7 linked regions of the Homo sapiens genome follow. The protein of the gene in region 5 interacts with the protein of the main gene of each other region in a biochemical or structural test. Each region holds a gene or a part of one and is shown on either strand. Other genes may lie near its edges.

The links.
Region 1: the proteins of E2F1 (region 5) and TOPBP1 form a complex in vitro, tested with the Homo sapiens proteins (4 studies listed by BioGRID and IntAct).
Region 2: the proteins of E2F1 (region 5) and BIRC2 form a complex in vitro, tested with the Homo sapiens proteins (2 studies listed by BioGRID, with this or other methods).
Region 3: the proteins of E2F1 (region 5) and SIRT1 form a complex in vitro, tested with the Homo sapiens proteins (one study listed by BioGRID and IntAct).
Region 4: the proteins of E2F1 (region 5) and SP3 form a complex in vitro, tested with the Homo sapiens proteins (one study listed by BioGRID).
Region 6: the proteins of E2F1 (region 5) and PURA form a complex in vitro, tested with the Homo sapiens proteins (2 studies listed by BioGRID).
Region 7: the proteins of E2F1 (region 5) and PHB1 form a complex in vitro, tested with the Homo sapiens proteins (2 studies listed by BioGRID).

The regions. Positions count from the first base shown.
Region 1 is NC_000003.12:133,620,442-133,623,941, reverse strand, and holds part of TOPBP1 (DNA topoisomerase 2-binding protein 1), read left to right. Parts: intron 1-484; coding exon 485-631; intron 632-748; coding exon 749-851; intron 852-3,500. UniProt on the Homo sapiens protein: Scaffold protein that acts as a key protein-protein adapter in DNA replication and DNA repair. Composed of multiple BRCT domains, which specifically recognize and bind phosphorylated proteins, bringing proteins together into functional combinations.
Region 2 is NC_000011.10:102,353,714-102,357,213, forward strand, and holds part of BIRC2 (baculoviral IAP repeat-containing protein 2), read left to right. Parts: intron 1-3,500. UniProt on the Homo sapiens protein: Multi-functional protein which regulates not only caspases and apoptosis, but also modulates inflammatory signaling and immunity, mitogenic kinase signaling, and cell proliferation, as well as cell invasion and metastasis.
Region 3 is NC_000010.11:67,908,656-67,912,155, forward strand, and holds part of SIRT1 (NAD-dependent protein deacetylase sirtuin-1), read left to right. Parts: intron 1-600; coding exon 601-787; intron 788-3,500. UniProt on the Homo sapiens protein: NAD-dependent protein deacetylase that links transcriptional regulation directly to intracellular energetics and participates in the coordination of several separated cellular functions such as cell cycle, response to DNA damage, metabolism, apoptosis and autophagy.
Region 4 is NC_000002.12:173,900,275-173,903,324, reverse strand, and holds the end of SP3 (transcription factor Sp3), read left to right. Parts: 3' UTR 1-2,550; downstream 2,551-3,050. UniProt on the Homo sapiens protein: Transcriptional factor that can act as an activator or repressor depending on isoform and/or post-translational modifications. Binds to GT and GC boxes promoter elements. Competes with SP1 for the GC-box promoters.
Region 5 is NC_000020.11:33,679,886-33,683,385, reverse strand, and holds part of E2F1 (transcription factor E2F1), read left to right. Parts: intron 1-2,969; coding exon 2,970-3,060; intron 3,061-3,411; coding exon 3,412-3,500. UniProt on the Homo sapiens protein: Transcription activator that binds DNA cooperatively with DP proteins through the E2 recognition site, 5'-TTTC[CG]CGC-3' found in the promoter region of a number of genes whose products are involved in cell cycle regulation or in DNA replication.
Region 6 is NC_000005.10:140,120,651-140,124,150, reverse strand, and holds part of PURA (transcriptional activator protein Pur-alpha), read right to left. Parts: 3' UTR 1-3,500. UniProt on the Homo sapiens protein: This is a probable transcription activator that specifically binds the purine-rich single strand of the PUR element located upstream of the MYC gene. May play a role in the initiation of DNA replication and in recombination.
Region 7 is NC_000017.11:49,408,383-49,411,882, forward strand, and holds part of PHB1 (prohibitin 1), read right to left. Parts: intron 3,458-3,500; coding exon 3,296-3,457; intron 1,092-3,295; coding exon 949-1,091; intron 777-948; coding exon 660-776; intron 1-659.

The sequences.
Region 1 (3,500 bases), on a different chromosome or scaffold from region 5:
TAATAGTCTTGGTTAACTGTACACATTTCAGATCTTTGGCATCAAAAACTTAACATCTTTAGTCCTTAAATACTTAACAAATCTTTAATGGATACTCTTTCTAATTCTCCATTTCCTTGTACTAATTAAAAATGTGATATGAATGGAAAGTTTATAATTATTTGGGGAAAATTTAACATATCAATAGAGTTTAGATCTGTGTTTCTTTTTTTTCCTGGGTATTCTCTGGAGGGTAATTGATACCTTTGCAAAAGCACAGGAATGGTTTCAGATTTTATACTTCAGTGGATATGACATTTAAAACATGAGGACAATCTGTCATTTGTATGATGCAAATTTTTCAGTGTAAACTACTTTTCAAACCAGTTTTGTGAACTTTTTGCCATATTACAGTATAATGTATTGCTTGTCCTTATCCTACTTAACATCATCTATTCATTAAGATTTTGTCAGTCCTGTCTTAAAGCACACCATTGTATTGCAGTGTGCCCAAGAGTGTAAACATCTTCCTGAATCTCTTTATCCACATACTTATAATCCCAAAATGAGCTTGGATATCAGCGCAGTGCAAGATGGCCGGCTCTGTAATAGTCGACTACTCTCAGCTGTGTCTTCAACAAAGGATGATGAGGTAGGAGATATGGATGATACATTTACCCCCTCTTAAGCTAAAGGTATAATCATATATTGCTATGAAACCTTATACAGTGGCTTGGTTTGAGAATTTATAATTTTTCTTTTTCAATAGCCAGATCCTTTGATTTTAGAAGAAAATGATGTAGACAATATGGCCACCAATAATAAAGAGTCAGCACCATCAAATGGAAGTGGAAAGAATGACTCTAAAGGAGGTAAAATATTTTATTTTTTAATTAAAAAAATTTTTTTTGAGACAAGGTCTCAATTTTTTGTGGAGATGGGGTCTTGTCATCTTGCCCACACTGGTCTGAAACTCCTGGGCTGAAAGGATCCTCCTGCCTTGTGAGCCACTGCACCCAGCTGTAAAATATGTTTAAATTACTAAATACAAGCAAAGCATATATTAGAGGATTGATTTGTGGTCCCATGCTGATCATTAAGTGATAATTTGCAAAGTTTTATGTAGTTTAAGTGTAAAGCTTATGAAATTTATGAAACTAGGTTTTTATGGAGTTAGTGTGATACAGCCCTATTCCATTAAAGGTAGGTGAAGTTGGTGATTTTTTAAAAATCTAGTCTTTGGTCCAGTTCTTTTGAGTGATTTTCAAAAAGTTTTCTTATATGTACAATATATTTTAACATATCCACATGGTTTTAAAGATACAAAAAGACATATGAAGAGTTTCTTCCACCCTTATTCTCCAGCCCCCCAGTGTTATTAGTTCCTTATGTATCCTTCTAGAGCTGCTTTATGCATATATAGCCGTAAATATGTTTTTCCCCCATTAAAAAAAAACAAACAAACACATAGGCTGGGCATGGTGGCTCGTGTCTGTAATCCCAGCACTTTGGGAGGCTGAGGCAGGCAGATCACCCAAGGTCAGGAGTTTGAGATCAGCCTGGCCAACATAGAGAAACTCCGTCTCTACTAAAAATACAAAAAATTAGCCGGGCATGGTGGTTGCATGCCTGTAATTCCAGCTACTCGGGAGGCTGAGGCAGGAGAATCGCTTGAACTCGGGAGGCGGAGGTTGCGGTGAGCCGAGATCATGCCATTGCACTCCAGCCTGGGCAAGAAGAGCAAAACTCTTGTCTCAAAAAAAAAAAAAAAAAAAAACATAAATGGTGGACTACTATACATGCTATTTCATACGCTGATCTTTTTGTTACCTTGGGTAGTGTTTTATATCAGTAGATAACTAGGAGCTTCTTTAGTCTTTTTCTTTCTTGCTTTTCTTCCTTCCTTCCCTCCCTTTCCTTCCTGTCCCCCTTCCTCTCCTTTCCCTCTTCCCTTCCTTTCCCTTTCCTTCTTTCTTCCCTTTTCTTTCTTTTTGGGCAACTGTATTGTATTCATTATGAATGGTCCCACTTTGTTTAGGCATCCATTCTTAATAGGCATTTAGGTTATTTCTACTTTCTTGCTTTTATAAATAGTACTGCAGTGAATAACCTTATACATGGATGTCTTTTAATAGATTTAATATGTTCTGTTTTCCTTACTCATTCTAACCTACCAAAGCTTTCCCTATGACTTACCTATTTGGTTAGTCTCACTCTGTTCATTCCAAATGCATTTATTTAATACTTACTCCAGAGTTTAGGCTTTAAAGAAAACCAAAGGTAAATACAGTTGTCTTGTCCCTTGGTATCCATGTGGCAGTGGTTCCGAGGACTTACCTCAGGTACCAAAATCCACAGATGCTTAAGTTCCTTATGTATAAAATGACATAGGATTTGAATTTAACCAATGCACATCCTCCTGTATACTTTAAATCATCTCTGGATTACTTATAATACCTAATGCACTGTAAATGTTTTGTAAATAGTTATATTTTATTTTTTTTACTGGTACTTTTAATTGTGATATTTTTCATTTTTATGTCTTTAAAATATTTCTGATCCATACTTGGTTGAATCCATGCATGCAGAACCGGTGGATGTGGAGGGCTGGATGTATGTTGTGGTCTGTGTTTTCAAGAGCCTTTGGGGAGTCTGGGCACGGTGGCTCACACCTGTAATCTCAGAGCTTTGGGAGGCAAAGGCAAGAGGATTGCTTGATGCTAGGGGTTCCAGATCAGCCTGGGCAACATAGTGAGACCTTGTCTCTACAAAAAATTTAAAAAATTAGCTGGGCGTGGTAATGTACACCTGTAGTGCCAGCTACTCAGGTTGCTGAGGCTGGAGGATCACTTGAGCCCAGGAGTTAGAGGTTATAATGAGCTATGACCATACCACTGCAGTCCAGCCTGGGCCACAGAGCAAGACTCTGTCTCTAAAAAATTAAAAGAATCTTTGGGAAAAATCAGACACATACACAAATGACTATAAGACATCTCAGAGTGTAGTACATACCATGAGAGTCAGAAGCAGGCAGGGAGCTTTACAGAGGGATAATCACTACAGGTCTTGATGAAATGTCTTTGAAGGGGGCCAGGCACGGTGGCTCATGCCTGTAATCCTAGCACTTTGGGAGGCTGAGGTGGGCAGATCACCTGAGGTCAGGAGTTCAAGACCAGCCTAGCCAACGTGGCGAAACCGCGTCTCTACTAAAAAATACAAAAATTAGCCCGGCATGGTGATGGGCACCTGTAATCCCAGCTACTTGAGAGGCTGAGGCAGGGAGAATTGCTTGAACCTGGGAGGTGGAGGTTGCAGTGAGCCGAGGTCGCACCACTGTCCAGCCTGGGCGACAGTGCTAGACTATCACCAAAAAAAAAAAAAAAAAAGTATTTGAAGGGCTTCCTAGTTATTTCATATACAGTGCTTGTGGTAAGGGCTGCTTTTTATGTTCTGCAGTATTCATAGTTTTAGTACATTACTATAGCCTGTAGTTAATATTCAGTAAATGTCAAGTCAATAAG
Region 2 (3,500 bases), on a different chromosome or scaffold from region 5:
CTTAAAAGATGCTCTTTCGCAAATTTCAGGTATAAGGTCCAGTATTATTAGCTATAGTCACCATGTGCTGTACATTAGATCCTCAGAAAGTTTGTGTTCTTTAACCAACATCTTCCCATTTCACCTACCCCCTTATCCCTGGCAACCAGCATTCTACTCTCTGTTTCTGTGAGTTTGGTTACCATACAGTATAGTTGTCCCTTGGTATGCTCGGAGGACTGGTTCTAGGACCCCCATGTATACCAAAATTCGCACATACTGAAGTCCAGAAGTTGACTCTGCAGAACCTGTGCATCCAAAATTCAGCCCTCCAAATATGTGGGTTTCACATCTGCAAATGTGATCTGCATTTGGTTGAGAAAAATCTGGGTGTAAATGGACATGTGCAGTTCAAACCTGTGTTGTTCAAGGGCCAGTTGTATTTGTCTTTCTCTGGCATATTTCACTTGGCATAATGCCTTCCAGGTTCATTCATGTTGCAGATGGTAGGATTTTATTTTATTTTATTTATTTTGAGATGGAGTCTCACTCTGTTGTCCAGGTTGGAGTGCAGTGGCACCATCTAGGCTCACTGCAATCTCCACCTCCTGGCTTCAAGCGATTCTCCTGCCTCAGCCTCTTGAGTAGCTGACATTATAGGCACCTGCCATCATGTCCGGCTAATTACTCTGTTTTTGTAGAGACGGGGTTTCACCATGTTGGCCAGGCTGGTCTCAGACTCCTGATCTCAAGTGATCCACCCGGAGTGGATGGGATTATAGGCGTGAACCACCACGCCCAGCCAGGCTCATCCCCCATTCATCCCTTAGTAGACACTTAAGTTGTTTCCATATAGCTGCTTGAACATGGGAGTAGAGATATCTCTGAGATACTGATTTCATTTCCTTCAGATATGTACACAGAAGTGGGATTGCTAGATCATATGCTAATTCTATTTTTAGTTTTTTGAGCAACCTCTATACTGTTTTCCATAATGACAGTAGTAAATTACCAACAATGGTCAAGGGTTCCCTTTTCTTCACATCTTTGCCAACTTTTGTTATTTCTTGTCTCCGATGATAATAAGGCATCATTACAGGTGGGAGGTGATATTTCATTTTGGTTTTAATTTGCATTTCCCTGATGATCAGTGACATTGAACACCTTTTCATGTACCTGTTGGCCATTTGTATATCTTTGGGAAAATTTCTGTTCAGGTCCTTTGCCCGTTTTCTAACCTGAATTATTTGGGTTTTTTTTTTTTTTTTTTTTTGCTATTGAGTTGTATAAGTTCCTTAAATATTTTAGATATTAACTCCTTATCAAATGTATAATTTGCAAATATTTTCTCCCATTCTGTAGGTTGCCTTTTTATTTTGTCGATTGTTTCCTTTGCTGAGCAGAAGCTTTTTAGCTTGTTGTAGTCGCAGTTTATTTTTGTTTTGGTTGCCTGTGCTTTTGGTGTCATACCCAAAACATTATTGCCAAGACCAGTGCCAAGGAGCTTTTTAGCCTACGTTTTCTTTAAGGAATTTTATGGTTTCTGGATTTATGTTTAGTCTTTAATCCATTTCTAGTTAATTTTTGTAGGTGGTATAAGATAGAGGTCTGGTTTTATTGTTTTACATAAAAACGGTGTTGGATATCCAGTTTTCCCAACACCGTTTGTTAAAGAGACTTATCATTTCAACATTGTGTGTTCTTTGTGCCCTTGTCAAAGATTAATTGATTGTATATGTGGCTTTATTTCTGGGCTCTCTGTTCTGTTGGTGTATGTCTTTGTTTTTATGCTAGTATCATATTGTTTTGATTACTGTAGCTTTGTAATATAGCTTGAAATTAGGAAGTATGATGCCTCCAGTTGTTTTTTTTGTTTGTTTTTTCTCAAGATTGCTTAGGCTATTCTGGGCCTTAAGTTCCGTACAAATTTTATGATTGGTTTTTCTATTTCTGTGATAAAAAAGTCATTGGAATTTTGGTAGGGATTATATTGAATCTGTAGAATGTTATGGGTAGTATGAACATTTTAACAATATTCTTATAATTTAAGAACACGAGATTGTTTAAAAATTTATTTCTGTCATTTTCAGTTTCCTTTATCAGTGTCATATGTTTTTCATTGTGTTTCTCTTTTACCTCCTTGGTTAAATTTATTCCTAAGTATTTTATTGTTTTGGTGCTGTTGTACATGGGATTACTTTCTTAAGTTCTCTTTCAGATAGTTCATTGTTAGTACTGACTTTTGTAAGTTGGTTTTGTATCCTACAACTTCTGGATGGTTTATTAGTTTTAACTGTTTTTGGTGGCATCTTTAGGGTTTTCTATATATATAAGATTATGTCATCTGCAAACAGAGAGTTTGACTTCTTCCAGTCTGATTTGGATGCCTTTTTCTTTTTCTTGCTTAATTGCTCTGGCTAACCCTTCCAGTATTATATTGAATAGACGTGGCAAGAGTAAGCACCCTTGTCTCGTTCCTCATGTTAGTGGAAAAGCTGAAAGCTTTTTTTTTTTTTTTTTTGAGATGGAATTTTGCTCTGTTGCCCAGGCTAGAATGCAGTGGCGCAATCTGAGCTCACTGCAACCTCCACCTCCTGGGTTCAAGTGATTCTCCTGCCCCAGCCTCCCGAGTAGCTGGGATTACAGGTGCGTGCCACTGCACCCAGCTCATTTTTGTAATTTCTTAGTAGAGATGGCGTTTCACCATGTTGGCCAGGCTGGTCTCCAACTCCTGACCTCGTGATCCACCTGCCTCAGCCTCCCAAATTGCTGGGATTAGAGGCGTGAGCCACTGCACCCGGCCAGCTTTCAGGTTTTCATTATCGAGTATGATGTTAACTGTGCACTTGCCATTTATGGTCCTTATGTTGAGGTATATTCCTTCTATAGCTAAATTGGTGAGAATTTTTATCCTGAAAGGGTGTTGAATTTTGTCAAATGCTTTTTCTGTGTCTGTTGAGATGTTTATATTATTATTATTATTATTAATTTTTTTTTTTTTTTTGAGATGGAGTGTTGCTCTGTCACCCAGGCTGGAGTGCAGTGATGCAATCTCAGTTCACTGCAACCTCTGCCTCCTGGGTTCAAGTGATTCTCCTGCCTCAGCCTCCCGAGTAGGTGGGACCACAGGTGCATGCCACCACACCCAGCTAATTTTTGTATTTTTAGTAGAGATGGGGTTTCACCAGGCTGGTCTCAAACTCCTGACCTCAGGTGATCCACCCATCTTGGCCTCCCAAACTGCTGGGATTACAGGCGTGAGCCACTGCACCTGGCTGGTTATATGATTTTTATCCTTCATTTTGTCAATGTGTGGTATCACATTTATTGATTTGCATATGTCATACCATCCTTGCATCTCAGGGATAAATCTCACTTGATATATGATTCTTCTAGTAGGCTGCTGAATTCGGTTTGCTAGTATTTGTTGAGGATTTTTGCATCTGTGCTCATCAGGGCTATTGGCATATAATTTTCTTTTCTTGTGTTGTCCTGGTCTGGCTTTGGTATCAGAGTAATGC
Region 3 (3,500 bases), on a different chromosome or scaffold from region 5:
CACTTTGGGAGGACGAGGTGGGTCGATCATTTGAGGTCAGAAGTGAGACCAGCCTGGCCAACATGGCAAAACCCCGTCTCTCTTAAAAATACAAAAATTAGCCTGGCATGGTGGCATATGCCTTTAATCTCAGCTGCTTGGGAGGCTGAGGCAGGAGAATTATTTGAACTCGGGAGGTGGAGGTTGTAGTGAGCTGAGATCATGCCACTTCACTCCAGGCTGGGCAACAGAACAAGACTCCATCTCAAATAAATAAAATGGAATCATTTTATTTGACAAATGTCTATTTTTTTTTGAAAGGATCAATTCCCATTTAGTGTATATACACACATTATGTTTTTCCTCTTAATATATGATGGACTCTTCAATGTCAAGTGTTTTTCTACATAGATATTATAACAAGAGCATAGTATTTCATTGTTTCATAGTATGTTAATAAACTACCCATCATTGACAGTTGCTGTTTATCCATAGCTTTTCTGTTTTGTTTTTTTTTTAATAATTCTGAAATGTATTCTTAGAGGTATGGAAATGTTGACTATTTCTAACTTGGGCTTACTCTTTGCTTCTCTACCTCAACCAAAATCTGAAAATATGTAGGTAGTTCCTCGATGTCCTAGGTGCCCAGCTGATGAACCGCTTGCTATCATGAAACCAGAGATTGTGTTTTTTGGTGAAAATTTACCAGAACAGTTTCATAGAGCCATGAAGTATGACAAAGATGAAGTTGACCTCCTCATTGTTATTGGGTCTTCCCTCAAAGTAAGACCAGTAGCACTAATTCCAAGTAAGTTGGTGATGGTTTTTGGAGAACATTTCTATATATAATGTCATGGGTTGTGGGTCTGTATAATAGACGCTAGTAATCTTAACTCTGCTTCTGTTTGAAAGAGTGGTGAAGAGCTAATTTTAGAAATTGTTTGTTTGTTTGTTTATTGAGATGGAGTTTCCCTCTTGTTGCCCAGGCTGGAGTGCAGTCGCATATCTTGGCTCACTGCAACCTCCGCCTCCCGGGTTCAAGCGATTCTTCTGCCTCAGCCTTCTGAGTAGCTGGGATCACAGGCGTCCACCAACATGCCTGGCTAGTTTTTGTATTTTTAGTATAGACCGGGTTTCACCATGTTGGCCAGGCTGGTCTCGAACTCCTCAGCTCAGGTGATCCGCCTGTCTCTGCCTTCTAAAGTGCTGGGATTACAGGCATGAGCCCCCATGCCTGGCCAGAAATTCTTTATTTTTAGTAGAGATGAGGTCTTGTTGTGTTGCCCAGGCTGGATTCGAACTCCTGGGCTCAAGTGATCCTCCTGCCTCAGCCCCTTGAGTAGCTAGGATTACAGGCACGAGCCTCCACATCTGGCTGAACTGTTTTTTTAGGTGGCATTGTTCATTGAGACTGGTGAATCTGACATTTTGATGGGGGGTGGAGGGTTGTCAAAACGCAAGTAATGTTGGTGGCTCGTGCCTGTAATCTCAGCACTTTGGGAGGCCGAGGTAGGTGGATCGCTTGAGGGCAGCAGTTTGAGACCAGCCTGGCCAACATGGTGAAACCCTGTCTCTACTAAAAATACAAAAATTAGCTGGGCATAGTGGTGTGCACATGTAGTCCCAGCTACTTGGGAGGTTGGGGCATGAGAATCGCTTGAACTCAGGAGGCAGAGGTTGCAATGAGCCGAGAATGTGCCACTGCACTCCAGCCTGGGTGACAGAGTGGGACTCTGTCTCAAAAAATCAAAAACAAACCCAGAAGTAATGCTAAACTCTACTTCTAATTTATGTGAAAAATTAAGACAAAGGTAGAGTTCAACTTAGACTTTTTGGTGGAATGTGTTTTTAATGTTGCAAGGGTTAGCATCAATTAATTTATGAAATGGTCCTTTATCCTTATATTTTTTGATTACAGTTTTGATCTTTCAAATTTAATTGATTTCACATTTAATAAATTCAAATGTATAGTTTGGTAGAAGTGTAACATACCATGTAAGATGGAATTTGGGGGCTCAGAATGATTGGTTCATTCTTGTAGTAACAGCCATGCCATAACGGTGATATGTCGATATAGTTTACCCAAAAGGGTGTGTATATAAAAGTGTTCACATAAAATTTAAATCCTTATTACTCTCAGGAAAATTTCTTTGTCATATATATTCTCATACTGTCTGTTTCCTCCTCTAGTTTAGAATCAGAGGAGGAGAGAGAGAGATTTCAGTTGCATCAGATGTGTCCTTTCATAAGTGAGGGAAAGAGGAGAGGAAAAATATTAAATCCCTAGCCAGAGAATTGAATTAGACCCCACATCAGCAGTCAAGGCAGCCAGAGTAAACAGTTGGAAGAAACATGGAGTCAAGCTCTTCAATTTTGTGTCTATCCCATATCTCGTGGCTTTAGCAGTTAACTCAGTCTTACCTAATTAGCTGTGAAATTCTGTTAAAGTAGAATACAAGACAATTTGCAATTAAATGAAACATGAAAATTTAATATACAAATCTCTTTGTTCTTGAGTTGCTCTTCTTAAAGCAAAATCAAAGGCACTCTGCTTAAAAGCTTTTCTTTTTATTTTTTAGAGACGGGTGTCTTGCTGTAGCTCAGGCTAGAGTGCAGTGGTGCAGTTTCAGCTCACTGCAGCCTTCAACTCCTGGGGACAAGCAGTCCTTCCACTTCAGCTTCCTGAGTAGTTAGGACCAGAGGCGCACACCATGCTTGGCAAATTTTTAAATTTTTTTTTGTAGAAACGGGATTCACTTTGTTGCCCAGGCTGGTCACAAACTCCTGGCCTCAAGTGATCCTTCCTCCTCTGCCTCTCAAAGCATTAGGATTACAGGCATGAGCTACCATGCCTGGTCCTTAAAAACTTTTCTTTCAAAAGCTTTCTGTGGGATAGTATGATGTGTTGCAAAGATAATTAAAAAAAGAAACAGGTTTATAATAGCGTAGAATATGTTTATATGACTTTTTCCCTCCCCCCCTCCCCTCCCTCCCTCCCTTCCGTTTGTCCTTCCTTCCATTCATCCTTCCTTCTGTTAGTCCTTCCTTCTGTCCATCCTTCCCGTCCGTTCTTCCTTCCTTCCTTCGTCCATCCTTCTGTCTGTCCTTCCTTCCGTTCATCTGTCCGTCCTTCCTTCCTCCCACCCTCCCTCCCTCCCTCCTATCCTCCCTCCCTCCCTCATTGCCCAGGCTGGAGTGCAATGGCATGATCTCGGCTCACTGCAGTCTCCCGTGTTCAAGCAGTTCTCCTCCCAAGTAGTTGGGATTAGAGGCATGCGCTACCACACGCCCGGCTAATTTTGTGTTTTTAGTAGAGATGGGGTTTCACCATGTTGGTCGGGTTGGTCTTGAACTCCTGACCTCAGGTGATCCGCCTGCCTCGGCCTCCCAAAGTGCTGGGATTACAGGCGTGAGCCACTGTACCCAGCTCACCTTCTTTATATCAGGAGCTACTTAAGTAGAACATTTATGTACCAAGAACTCTTCTGTGCACTTGACTAACTCATTTAATCCTCACCACA
Region 4 (3,050 bases), on a different chromosome or scaffold from region 5:
TGTTCTCTAACTATAAAATGAGAATGATGCTAGCGTCATCTTCATAGAGTGATTATGGAGATAAATAAGTTAATGCATGTAAACCACTTTCCATAATGCCTGGCACATATTATATTATGTATTAGTAAATGTAAGCACTGGAAGAATCAGTAGTCTTCCTACACTTGAAAATAGTTGTCTTCAACTATTGTTGTATTAATGAGTTAATTCACCTTGTTAAGTCACCTTGATCCACCTAATTGTCAGCCAACATTTATTAACGAAACTGCTAGTATTCGTATTGTGCCTTTTTTATTATGAAACATTTCAAGAATACAGAAAAATGCAGAAAACAATGTAACAAATACCTAAGTATCTATCACCCAACTTTTATAGTCTTATTTTTACCTATATATTTTTTCTTTTAGAAAGGAATGATCACAGTTGTGCCTGAAATCTGTATAGCCCTGTCTCATTTCATTTGTCTCCCTTTACCCACATAAGTAATTGCAGCTCTGAATTTGATGTTTATCAGAATGATACCATGAGTGGTTTTATATCCTTATTATATGTATGCATACCTAGGATTGTTTTTCTGATTTTGAAACTTCATATAAATGGTATCATTCTGTACAAAACCTTCTGGGACTTGTTTTACCACTCATGTTTTTGAGATGTATCCACACTACCATCTTTCTCTAAATCATTCATTTAAATGCTGTAGTTCATTGAATAAGTTTATCACAATGTATCCATTTTCTTCTTGATGAGCATCTCAGTTATTTCCAATTTTTGACTTATAAACAATGCTGCAATGAAATAATTGACATATTTCCTTGTGTACATGTGAGCATTTCTTGAGATATGTATCTAGAACTTGAATCACTGGCCAACAGGATATTCTTAATCTTCAGTTTCACCAGATACTTCCAAATTGATCTCCATAACATGCATACCAAATTATATTCCTACCAGCCATTTATAGGAGTTCACATTTTTTCCATACCCTCCCAATCCTGCCTTGGCAGATATGTTTTTTCCAATGAATAACAATGAAATTTTGTTTTGGGATTTGACAAAATGATTCTAGATTCATCTGGAAGAAAAGCAAGTATAAGTAAGAAATTTAAAAGGGACCTGAAAAACTAAGCAATGGATATATTTAAAAATTGGTACCAGTAGGGATAACCAAATATTTGTTAACTGTAGCAGAAACAATGCATGTTTTTCTCACTGGTTCCACCTTCTATCTCTCAGTCAAGCCCTGCCCAGGTGTGGTAGTCCTCATAGTCTCTCACTGTAGGGGTCTTCTCACATAGTAGACCACTCTCTTGAGTTGAATATTGAAAAGAAGGCTTGGCCGGGGGCAGTGGCTCATGCCTGTGGTCCCAGCACTTTGGGAAGCTGAGTCGAGCGGATTGCTTGAGGTCAGCAGTTCGAGAGCAGCCTGACTAACATGGTGATGAAAAGTACAAAATTAGCTGGGGGTGGTGGCGCATGCCTGCAATCCCAGCTACTCGGGAGGCTGAGGCACGAGAATCGCTTGAACGCAGGAGGCATAGGTTGCAGTGAGCCGAGATTGCACCACTGCACTCCAGCCTGGGCGACAGAGCAAGATTTCGTCTCAAAAAAAAAAAAAAAAAAAAAAAAGGCTTAAGTCCAACTAACTGTTTCCCTGCTGTTCATTTTATCCAACGGCTGGGGATATAGGCTACTGCACATGATGGGTTGATGGATGTGAAATGATAACTCATGACTTTAATTCTAATTTTTCTATATTCTGGTGAGGTTGAGCATATTTTTACAAGTTCATAATCCATTTTCCTCTGATGGGAGTTGCCTGTTTGAATCCTTTGCCCACTTGCTTTTTGGGGTTATTTGCAATTTTTTGCATTGATCTTCAAACATTCTTAATTAATCCCAGGTACATATTATTTTATATATAAGATATATTTTAGAGATATATAGGCTGATAGTATCTTTTCTCAGTCTAAGGCTTATCTTTTAATTTTGTTTATGGTGTTTTGTGTGTGTTGTTTTGCAGAAGTTTTATTGTATCTGAATTGTGGCTTTTGTGTCTTAAGAAATTCTTTACCTACTGTCATAAAAATTTTTGTCTAAAAATTTTATGATTTTGCCTTTCTATTTATCTTGTTAATTCACTTTGAAATTACTTTTGTTTATGGCATAAAGTCCATTATTTTCCATATGGATAATCAGTTGTCTTAGCAGTTTATTGAATGGTCCAACGTTTCCCTGCTGATTATAATGCCCTCTCTGTTATTTATCCTAAATTCTTGACATCCGGTAAGGAAGTCTCCTCTGCCCACCCTTCTCTGTATTTCAAAATGGTTTTGACTGTTCTTGACCCCTTGCTCTTTCTGTGAACTTTAGGATTAAATGATTATGTAGAATTAAACAATCGGGTTAAGGTTTTTTATTAGAATTACATTGAATCTATAGATTAATTTGGGGAAAGAATGTTATCTTTCTATCCATGATAATTCTGTATCTCTCCATTAATTCAAGTCTTTAATGGTTTTTAAAAATAAATTATTGTCTCTTTGAAAATCCTTACACATCCTTTATTGCACTGATTCGTATGTAGTTTATGTTTTTGTTGTTGCTTTGGAGAATAGGCTTCTTAAAATTAAATGTTTAAATTGATCAATGCTGGAGTATATAAATGCTATTGATATTTGTAAAATGATTTTGTCTAATAATCTTACATAATTCTTTTGCTGTTCTAATAGTTTGCCTGTAGATCCTATACGATTTTCTGTGGAGACAGTCATATTGTCCTCAAAGAAGAAAATGTTTGTCTCTTCATTTCCAAGTCTTGTGCCTCTACTTTTAATCAACAGCTTAATGTTAAACAGAAGTGGTGGTGCCAGACATCTCTGTCCTGCTTCTGACTACTATTTACTTTTCTTTCTCACATGTAACTATAACATTATTCAGTTCTTATAACATGGTAAGATAGGTGGAATAGGCATTATCTCCATTTCTAGTTAAAGCTGAGTGGGCCAGAGTATCACTCCAAAACACACAGCTAGTAGATGTCAGAATAT
Region 5 (3,500 bases):
TCTACCTCCTGGGTTCAAGCGATTCTTCTGCCTCAGCCTCCCGAGTAGCTGGGACTACAGACGTGCACCACCATACCCGGCTAATTTTTGTATTTTTGGTAGAGATGAGGTTTCACCATATTGGTCAGGCTGGTCTTGAACTCCTGACCTCAAGTGATCTGCCCGCCTCGGCCTCCCAAAGTGCCAGGATTACAGGCGTGAGCCACTGCGCCTGGCCAAAAACTTAACTCTTAAGAAACTAGAAAGTTGACGGCAGGATCCCAGCCCTATTCATTTTTTTCCTTTTTTTCCCTAAGGCTATTTTTGTTTGTGGTGGTTGTGACAGTTTTTGTTTTTTAAAGTTTTAAAAATTGTAGTTTTTCCTGTATCATTCACACCATTCAGATATGGCACTGGTCTCCCACAGTCCTTCCAGAGGCTGCCCCGAAATGTATTCTATAATAATATAAACTGAACCAGAGAAAAGTTTCATGAGCTTTTTAATCCAAAAGGGATCATATAAATATATCGCCCTGTGACAGTGTTTTGCTTGTCTGTATGTGTGAGGGGATTCTTGTCAACCTGCCTCGGTCCTTGACAGCTGCGTGGTGTTCAAGGGGCTAAACAAAGCACAGCTTTCGTGACCCCCTTCATGGATGGGTGTTCGAGTCATCCAGATTTTTTCAGCAGTGAATGTCTTCACCCCTGCGTTTCGGGGCCCCTCTGCCAGTGTTTATCTAGGGAGAAGTGGCAGAAATGGCATCCACTCAAGCCTTTGTTTTAGGGCGTGGCACTGACCTGCCTTCAGGGGTGGACAAGGGTGGGGATCCCAGGGAGAAGGCAAGGGGTGCAGATGGCAGAAGCATGCTAGGGTTTGGGCCCCAGGGGCGAGTATGGAGGGGGATACATTCTGGCTGGGTTCTGGGGAGGTGGGGCACGTGGCGGGTATGAGTGTGGGCTCTGTACCAGCCAACTAGGGTGCAAGTCCTGGGTCCACCTCTCACTGTGTGGCCTCTCTCAGGTGGAGGCCATCATAGCACCTGCCAAAAGGTGGCCGGAGGGTTGCAGGGGAAGCAGTTGAGTACACAGTGCTTAGAGCACAACAGCTCTTCTTTCCCCTGGGTGCCTTCAAAAGTCAGTGAATGTGCACAAGAGGGAGTGGTTCATCAGCATGGGGGGGGTTCATTCAGCAAACATTTGTTGATGCCAGGCTCCATGGCAGACACTATAGATTCTCAAGTGATTCAGACACCTCTGAGGGTGAGATAGATACATCTGCAGAAATGTGTAGGGAGAGACAGAATGTGGCAAAAGGTTGGGTTTGAGGCAGTTCAGAGGGAGAAGAGGTGACACCTCCTAGCTGATGCGTAAGGTTTCTGCCCACAGAGGTAGAGGGAGCAGGCGTGAAGTGGGGAGGGTGGGAGGGATGCAAGGGCAGTCTAGATTTCTGGGAAAACGTGACTCGGGTTCCTCTAGAGAAGCAGTGGCAGATGAGAGTACAAAGGCAATGGGGAGCTGGAGGAAGGCCTTAAGCAGGGGCGGCGGCATGGTAAGGTTTGTAGGAGGACTGGCTGCAGCAGAGGCAGGGAGACCAGTGTGGAGTCTGCTCAGCAGCCCACTGGGAAGGTGGTGATCGCCGTGGTGATGAGCAGTTCTTGGTAGCTGCATGTGAGGAGGGTGACAGGTCAGGAACTCTAGCTCAGGAAACCCTGTGGATGGTGGAGGGGAAGATCAGTCTGGTTTTGGTCCGGGTACTTTTGAGCAGCCTGTGAGACCTCCAGGACAGTCCCAATCCTGGAGTGTCTGAACTAAGCCAGAGTGCTTAGAGCTTGGGTTCTTCCTCAGACCGTCTTGGGTACAAATCCTGACTCTACCACTTCCTGGGCCTCCCTGGGCTTTAGTTGCCTTATCTGGAAAATGGGGCCATTTTTATACAGCCAGTCCGTTGAATGGAATGAACTAATGGATGCAAGGAACTTGATGAGCACCAGCTGCTACCATGCGTATAGATTAGTCAAAAACCAGAGAGAAGGTGATTTAGCCAAGGGACCTATGTAATCAGTGGCTTAGCTGGGCATGGTGGCTGACTAGTCCCAGCACGACTACAGTGAAGGCTGAGATGGGAGAATTGCTTGAGCCTAGGAGTTTGAGACCAGTCTGGGCAACATAGGGAGACCCCATCTCTACGAGAAATAGAAAAGTTAGCTGGTCTTGGAGGGATGCGCCTGTGGTCCCAGCTGTTTGGAAGGCTGAGGTGGGAGGATTGCTTGAGCCCAGGAAGTCTAGGCTGCAGAGAGTTGTGATCATACCACTGCACTCCAGCATAGTCAACAGAGCGATACCCTGTCTAAAAAAGAAAAAAAAATAGTGCCTTAAAACAACAAACATTTATTATATAGTTTTTGTGGGTCAGGAATTCAGGGAAGACTTATCCAGCTCTGGCTTGGGGTCTCTGGAGATTCAGCCAGTGTTTGGGTTCTGGCTGCTAACAGAAGTTGTGACTAAGTGTTGCTGTTGGGAGGAGGCCATGGTTTCTTGCCCATCATTAGGGCTACTTGAGTGCCCATATGATATGGCAGAGTAAGTGACCCAATACAGAGCAAGGAGGAAGCTCCAGCGCCTCTGACCCAGTCTCAAAAGTGACAGGCCATCCCTTCCACCACATTCCATTCATTCATCCCCAGAAGCAAGTTACCAGGTCTGGCTCATAAGGGGAGAATTAGGCTATATCTTTTGAAGGAGAAGGATCAGAAAGTTTGCGGATGTGTTTTAAATCCACCGCTAGACCCCAGAGAAGTGGTGAAAATGGAATGTCCTGTGTGGTAGGACTGTGACTCTCAGGCTATGTCCCCTCTGATCTCCCTCAGTCACACACTCAGGCATCCTGCTAGAGAAACTGAGGCGAGGGTAGCCCAGAGGCACCCAGCCTTAAGCCAGGTCTCTTCTGGCCTCACTCCTGGTTACTGGGCATCCTCCCGTTTTCGCCACAGGTGAAGCGGAGGCTGGACCTGGAAACTGACCATCAGTACCTGGCCGAGAGCAGTGGGCCAGCTCGGGGCAGAGGCCGCCATCCAGGAAAAGGTACCTATGGAGCTTGGGCTGGGCAGACCCCCTGTGACCAGGCCCAGGTTAGGGATGTGAACAGACAAACATGCTTGCAAGCTAACGTCTGGCTTGTCGGGCTTGAGCCAGGCCTCTGAGGACCCTGATGGGCAGTTGGAGTGGCCACCTGGCTTGGTTTCTCCAGGCCCTGAGGGGTGAGGAGTTCCCCAGCCAGAAGAAGAATGCTGTGGTTGGCCTCGCCAAGGGGAAGGAGCTGGCTGTCCCCCAGCCCCCATCATCCTGCTGCCCTGCACTGCCAGAGTGGCAGGCCTGGCTGGAGGTGGGGGTGGATGCTGAAGGGCCCTGTCTTGCCTGACCACACCCCCACAGGTGTGAAATCCCCGGGGGAGAAGTCACGCTATGAGACCTCACTGAATCTGACCACCAAGCGCTTCCTGGAGCTGCTGAGCCACTCGGCT
Region 6 (3,500 bases), on a different chromosome or scaffold from region 5:
TTCTGAACACTGTGTTGCATAATATCACCAAGACAAAAAATATGTTCACAGGTACACTTTTTGTTATTTTCTTTCTAGAGCACATCTTTGAGGTCATAAGACCGCATCTGGTTAAAATAAAGTCTCTTGCCCTTGCTTCCCTTCCCCCTCAAAGTGATTCAACCCTGAATTCCAAAAAGGAATATTCAATATAACAACTTGAAAACCAGTTGTAACACTTAGACCATAAGGAAACTATATGAACATTATGGAAAACTACATGAAAGAGGGAGCTGCCACTTGCCACCCACTTCACTTCCAGCTTTTTAAGCATGTACCCAGCTAGACTCCTATCTCACTGACTTCAGTGAAACAAACTAACACACCAAATCTAGGCCATCTCAGGCTGGAAGTTAAAACTCGAAGACATCATTTCATATACACATACATATATATTCCCTATCCTAAGCTTTAACTTTGTCTATTTAAACAGTTTAATAAAGCTCACATTTACAAAGGATTTTATTGGCAAATAAAGGCCCATATTAAAAATTTTATCAGAACAAATTTTTGTTTTATACAGCTAACATTAAGAAATATTTTCTTGGCCTTATAAAATATTTTTAATTGCATATAATTTTTGCTTTGGGTGGAATATTGAAAACACAATTCTGCAAGAAATTAGAAAAGACTAGAAACAAAAGTGAAAGTGACTAGCCTTAACTTTCAAAAAATCAAGTGCAAAGATAAATAGTGCAAATAATGAAAACTAGAAATTTTACAGGCAACTTTAGTCTTTCCTGCTTTTGCACTTTTACACATTGACAACTTTATAAACCCTAACAACTATATGCAGCATGGAAATGGGCTATCATTTATCTCCACTGACTAGACTTAAGCCTTTCAAGGACTTGTCTCACAGTCATTTAAATCACAAGTTCTTGACACAGGTTTGGGAATTCACTTCTTTTTAAACAAATTTCTAAGGGAGGGGCTATTTAAGAAGGCTTTGCATTGACTTAAATGAGTTATAGTATATAACTATTATAATTTAAAATCTGACACAATAAAATGTGAAAATTATACTAAAGTGCCAACTCTACAAAATAAGCTATAGTAAAAATAATCCTGCTATTGTTAATGAACCTGACATTCGTAAAAAAGAAAAATTACCTTCAAAGTACAAAATCAGAACCACTTTTTTGCTATTTTTAAAAGAGATTTTTATCACTAATATATAGAGATGTGAGTAAAATGAAACTTCAAAGTAATCTGTCCAAATCACCAGGAATAAATCCATACTAAATTTGACAACAAAGAGTTAATCCAAACATACTTGAATTATGTAACTTAAAAACAAACATTACAGTAATTATTTATCTTAAATAATTTAAAACACTACTGGAATAATGGGAACAGAAATCTAAACACTATCAGCTTACCCTACAAAGGATATAAGAACCTCCAAAATGTACTAACTTATTTTATTAACATTTGCCACCACTGAACTCTTGGGAATACTACAATTTTAAAGTAAGAGAGAAAGTAGGGAAACAGAAACATGAGTTTGGGGGGTATGTTGTCTAATTTTAGAAATACAGTATTATTGAGGGCCTCATAAGGTCTACAAGGTTAAATGGTTGCTACGGATGCAAATGTAAAAGAAATAAAAAAGACACCTAAAATTGCAAGTTAGTGTTTTTACCTGGTTTATTGTCTTCTAAGAAATTTGTGTGGGCCAAAGTCTCAAAATTCTATAAAAGCAAGGAATAATATGTGTCTTTGTGGAGTACAAAATCAAATAATTTGATCTAAGGACCATTTGAAAAGTAAAGGTAAACTACATTGTAACAAGAGCCCAAGAAAATAGATAGTATGTGTGATAAATATTTCTGATAGTTTAAAAAGAATAATGGTGAAAAGCTTGAAATTTTCTTTTCCTCAAAATAATAACTCCCCAGCATCCACTTGCCTTGACCAGAAAAGCTGTCATTCCACAATTGTGCTAATTTGTCCCAGAAAAGCAGACATCCTATACATGAAAACAGACTTGTATAATGCATGATCATTATCATAACTCTAGCTATAGTAACTAACAGCTTTCTCATAATCAATGAGGGACCCATTTTCTCTGGCTTTATTGAAACTTCCTTAGTGAAGATCAACTTCATTTCCTTAGCAAATAACTCTCATTCGGACTCCATCATAGTACCTTTTCCTACCTCTAGTAAAAATTCCTCTCACTTTATTTCCAAACCATTCTCTATATACCTCTCAAACCCCCATCCACAAACACATTAAACAGCTCTCCTCGTCCTACTCTCCAATTTCCAAACCAGTAAGTCTCAGTTCCCAGTAACTTACCTAAAATACACATACTTCTTACTCTCTTCAGTTCACAAGTTTCTTAACATTAATTTAGATACCTTCAAACTGCCAGCTTAAGACTATGGGGAAAATAGCAATCAGAAAAAAACTGCCCAGTTACCTCATAATACTGAAATTGTTCTGGATCATCAGTTAGCTATGTTCTAAGGCAGGAGTCAGAAATTTCTTTACTTCTCTCTGAAGAAGTAAGCTTGAGTGCCACTGGTAGGCCTACAGCAAGAGTAAAAGTGGAGAGAGAAACAAAGAAAAAGGATAGGAGAGAGAAGATGCCAGATGTACATGGTAAGGAGGTAGGTCAAGTACCACCACCAACTACCTGCATTTAAAATTGCCAATCCACTCCAGCTGAATGGGAGTTTGACCCAAACTCAACATGTGTCTGATAAGTCATTAGCTGATGGCTATCATTGTTTGAGCTAGTCAAGATGAATAGGTAATTCACCTGTCCCATAACTTTAACTGCCACTTCACGATAAGGACATATTTTCTTAAATCCTCCTAGGATCCTTCTGTGTTAATAATCTACCTTAGACCAAAACACACACTAACAAGAGTATTTCCATGTTTTTCACAATTCTAAAATAGAAGGACTTGGTCCTTGAACTTGGAGGCCTCTTGAATTATTAAAGTGGAACCAAAATCAAGAAAATTAAACTCTTTAGCTTAAACATTTTTCCATCTAATGCTACAAAATAAGCTAATTGCTAATAATTATCAAAACAATGTGTGTATTTATGAAAACATGAAAATCCTGTGATTCCAAAATGAGTGAAATACTTCTGATGTGTAAGAAGCAACTATATTTTACATAGAGGATCACCACCATGTTTCTGCCTATCAACAGGACAATCTTCCACAAAAGCAAAGGACATCAGGAAGGAAAAACACAAAACAAAACAAATACCAAACGTGGGGACAAAATAAAAATGAATGAGTAGTTATGACATTCTTGTTAAGAAAAATGTTAACAAGTGACCTTTGCCACACTCAGCTTTCCTAAAGACATAAATTGCCTGGACCATTCAACATCAAAACTTGGTAGTTAGCTTAGCAGATTCATTGGCTTGAAACCAATCATTATTTCTTATTTCATCTGGTTGTTCTTTTATCATGAAATTCTACCTGACTCATGC
Region 7 (3,500 bases), on a different chromosome or scaffold from region 5:
GAATCTAGAAACACGACCCCTTCCCCTCACCCTCCTCAACCTGAAACGCTATCCTGCCTGCATTGCTTTCTGAGTTATGACATCCAATGTCATATAAACACACAAGCTATAGTGTCTCAAGAGGATAGCTTACGCCTCAGAGATGTCCCTTGCCCCCTATACCAGGCCTGGGGGAATCCAACCGTTCGTTTACACTCTATCACCTTTCACTGGGGTTCCCAGAGCTTACTTCACTGAGCTTCGGACTGTAAAGTGTTAGGAAGCTCCCAGGAGTCAGGCTGGGAGGTCTGTGCTAGGGAGAAGGACTACCCGAGCTGTTCTCTGGTCTCTACCAGGCAGTTTCTGCCTGTGTCAAACAGGGTTAACAAGGCATCACTCTCTGGGTAACAGTTTGGAGAAGGTAAAACATTTAGTGGTTAGAGACTATCTGGATACAACCAGAGGTCATAAGAAAAATGTGTGTGGCAGGGGGAAGGTAAAAGAACCCTCAACTGAAAAACCCACGGAGACTGCCTCACCTCAGCATGTTTCCGTGTTTTCAAGTCTCACATCTAGCAAAGCAGAAGGGAGGACCTAATAGCGTCTACCCAGAAATGGAGCCAGGCACCTAAACGAGAACTGCAGCCCCTTCCCCTCCTCGGTCTCCCGAAGGATCTTACCAAGGACACGTCATCCAGGATGAGCCCAAAGGTGGCGGCTCGCTCTGTAAGGTCGTCGCTCACCTGCCTGGAGACCAGCTCTCTCTGGGTGATTAGTTCTCCAGCATCAAAGCGAGCCTGGTTTCAAAGGGAGGAGCAGAAGGGCAGGTCAGGTTAATGAGGAAGCAGAAAAGGAACCAGGAAACTAGCAGCCACATCCCAACCAACCCACTGCCAAGCGCTTCCTGCCACCTGGCACCCTCCCAGGGTGGTGCTCTGGGCTCGAGGCTAAAGGCCCCTGTTCACTCACCACCACTGACTTGAGGATCTCAGTTGTGATGGACGGCAGCACACGCTCATCATAGTCCTCTCCGATGCTGGTGAAGATGCGAGGAAGCTGGCTGGCGACAGGCCGGAAGAGGATGCGCAGTGTGATGTTGACATTCTGTAAATCTTAGGGTAGGGGACAAACACTGGAGTTAAAAATAAAAACCACTGTAGGAAAACAAGTGTTTTTTTTTTGTTTTTTTTTTTTTTTGAGACAGGTTTTTGCTCTTGTTGCCTAGGCTGGAGTACAATGGGACAATCTCGGCTCACTACAACCTCTGCCTCCCAGATTCAAGCAATTCTCCTGCCTCAGCCTCCTGAGTAGCTGGGATTACAGGCACGCGCCGCCACACCCAGCTGTTTTGTATTTTTAGTAGAGACAGGGTGTCACCATGTTAGGCTGGTCTCAAACTCCTGACCTCAGGTGATCTACCTGCCTCAGCCTCCCAAAGTGCTGGGATTACAGGTGTGAGCCACCGCACCTGGCCACAAGTGGTCTTTTATATGACCTCTCCTACTCCAATTTGCTACAATTTTTATTTATGTATTTTGAGACAGGGTCACATGTTGCCCAGGCTGAAGTGCAGTGGTAAGATCACAGCTCACTGTAGCCGCTTTGACCTCCTGGGCTCAGTTGATCCTCCCACCTACACCTTCCAAGTAGCTGGGACTACACAGGCACAGACCACCACGCCCAGCTAATCTCTGTACTTTTTGTAGAGCTGGGGTTTCGCCATATTTCCCAGGCTGGTCTCAAACTCCTGGGCTCAAGTGATCCAACTGCCTCAGCCTCCCAAAATGCTAGAATTACAGGTGTGAGCCATTACGCCTGGCAATTTTTATTTTTTATTTTTAGAGACAAGGTCTTGCTATGTGGCCCAGGCTAGACTCAAGCTCCTGAGCTTAAGCATTTCTCCTGCCTCAGCCTCTTGAGTAGCTGACACGCACCACTGTGCCTGGCTCCAAATTTGCTACAATTTATAAGCAAATCTGCTGATTATAAGATCCCAGAGGGCAAGGTGCAGGTATGCCTGGTTTCCTTGGCAGAGAACCCAATAGAGCATCATAAAGAGTTTATAATTTCTTAAGAGGCTTCAGTGATAGCAGCTTTTTGGTATCCCCTGAATGCCCTCAGATATACATAATTCAGATTATATGTCTAACAGGTGCCATGCAAAGTTTGCAACACTGAACATTTTAAGACAATAGACAGGGCAATGCTAAGAATTGTAGGGTGAGGCCTTTACATGCTCTGGTGATTGTGGCCAAGTCAGGAGTCAGCCTTGGAGAGGTTAGTTCGGGTCTGGTGGAAACGGTGTTAGACTATCAGTCCAAAGATCTGGGCTATTTACTAATGATGTGGCCTCTCTAAGCCTTAGCCAACCTGAGCTTATTTCCCTGTCTATGAGAATGGGGACAATTTCATTTGCTTTCTGGGCCTTGCGGAAATGTTGGGGAAAATTGAAGGAGAAAACAGACGTAAAAGCACTCTGTCAAATGTGTAACACATATAAGGGGTTAACAGACTGATCCTATGTTCTGCTTCTCATTACTTGGACCATTTAAAGGATCCAGGGAGAGAATTATACTTTCCCCTGGACAATTCAGGCCTGCCTGGAGCCAAAGCACTGTCACGGCTTGCTTACAGATGTCAACAATATGGACCAAGCGCCCATGAGACAGCCCTGAACTGGGCACCAAGAGAGGTGGGCAATGTATTAATACCTACAACTCCCTGATCTCTGGAAGCTCCTATCAATAGTTTTAGAAATAGGTACATAATGTATCCTGAAAACAACTGCAAAACAGTACGGAAAGAAATTCCAAAGAGATGGGAAGATTAGAAGCAGGCTTTTTTTTTTTTTTTTTTTGAGACAGAGTCTCACTCTGTTGCCCAGGCTGCAGTGAAGTGGCACAATCTTAGCTCACTGCAACCTCCGCCCCCCAGGCTCAAGCAATTCTCCTGCCTCAGCCTCTCAAGTAGCTGGGATTACAGGCACCCCCCACCACCGGCTAATTTTTGTATTTTTAGGAGAGATGGGGTTTCACCACATTGGCCAGGCTGGTCTTGAACTCCTGACCTCAGGTGATCCACCTGCCTCAGCCTCCCAAAGTGCTGGGATTACAGGCATGAACCACCGCACCCAGCCATAAGTGGGTATTTCTAAGATTCCATATCAAGCTCTCCAGGGCAAGTAGTCTAGTCATTCCTATGATGTACAGTTCAAACTCTTTTGGATCCTGGTATCCCACAGATGCTCCTGTGACACAGAAGAACAGAGCACCTCTTCCACACTCCCTACTTTACCTGAACCATAGGCAAGACTCACCTTTGCTACCAGTGATGACTGGCACATTACGTGGTCGAGAACGGCAGTCAAAGATAATTGGTTTCTGTACCCACGGGATGAGAAAATGAGTCCCTTCCCCTACCACAATGTCCTGCACTCCACGGAATCGGTCAAAGATGACAGCTCTGTGCCCAGCATCCACTAGGAAGAAAGGACAATGACATGTCATAAAAATCCTCTCATC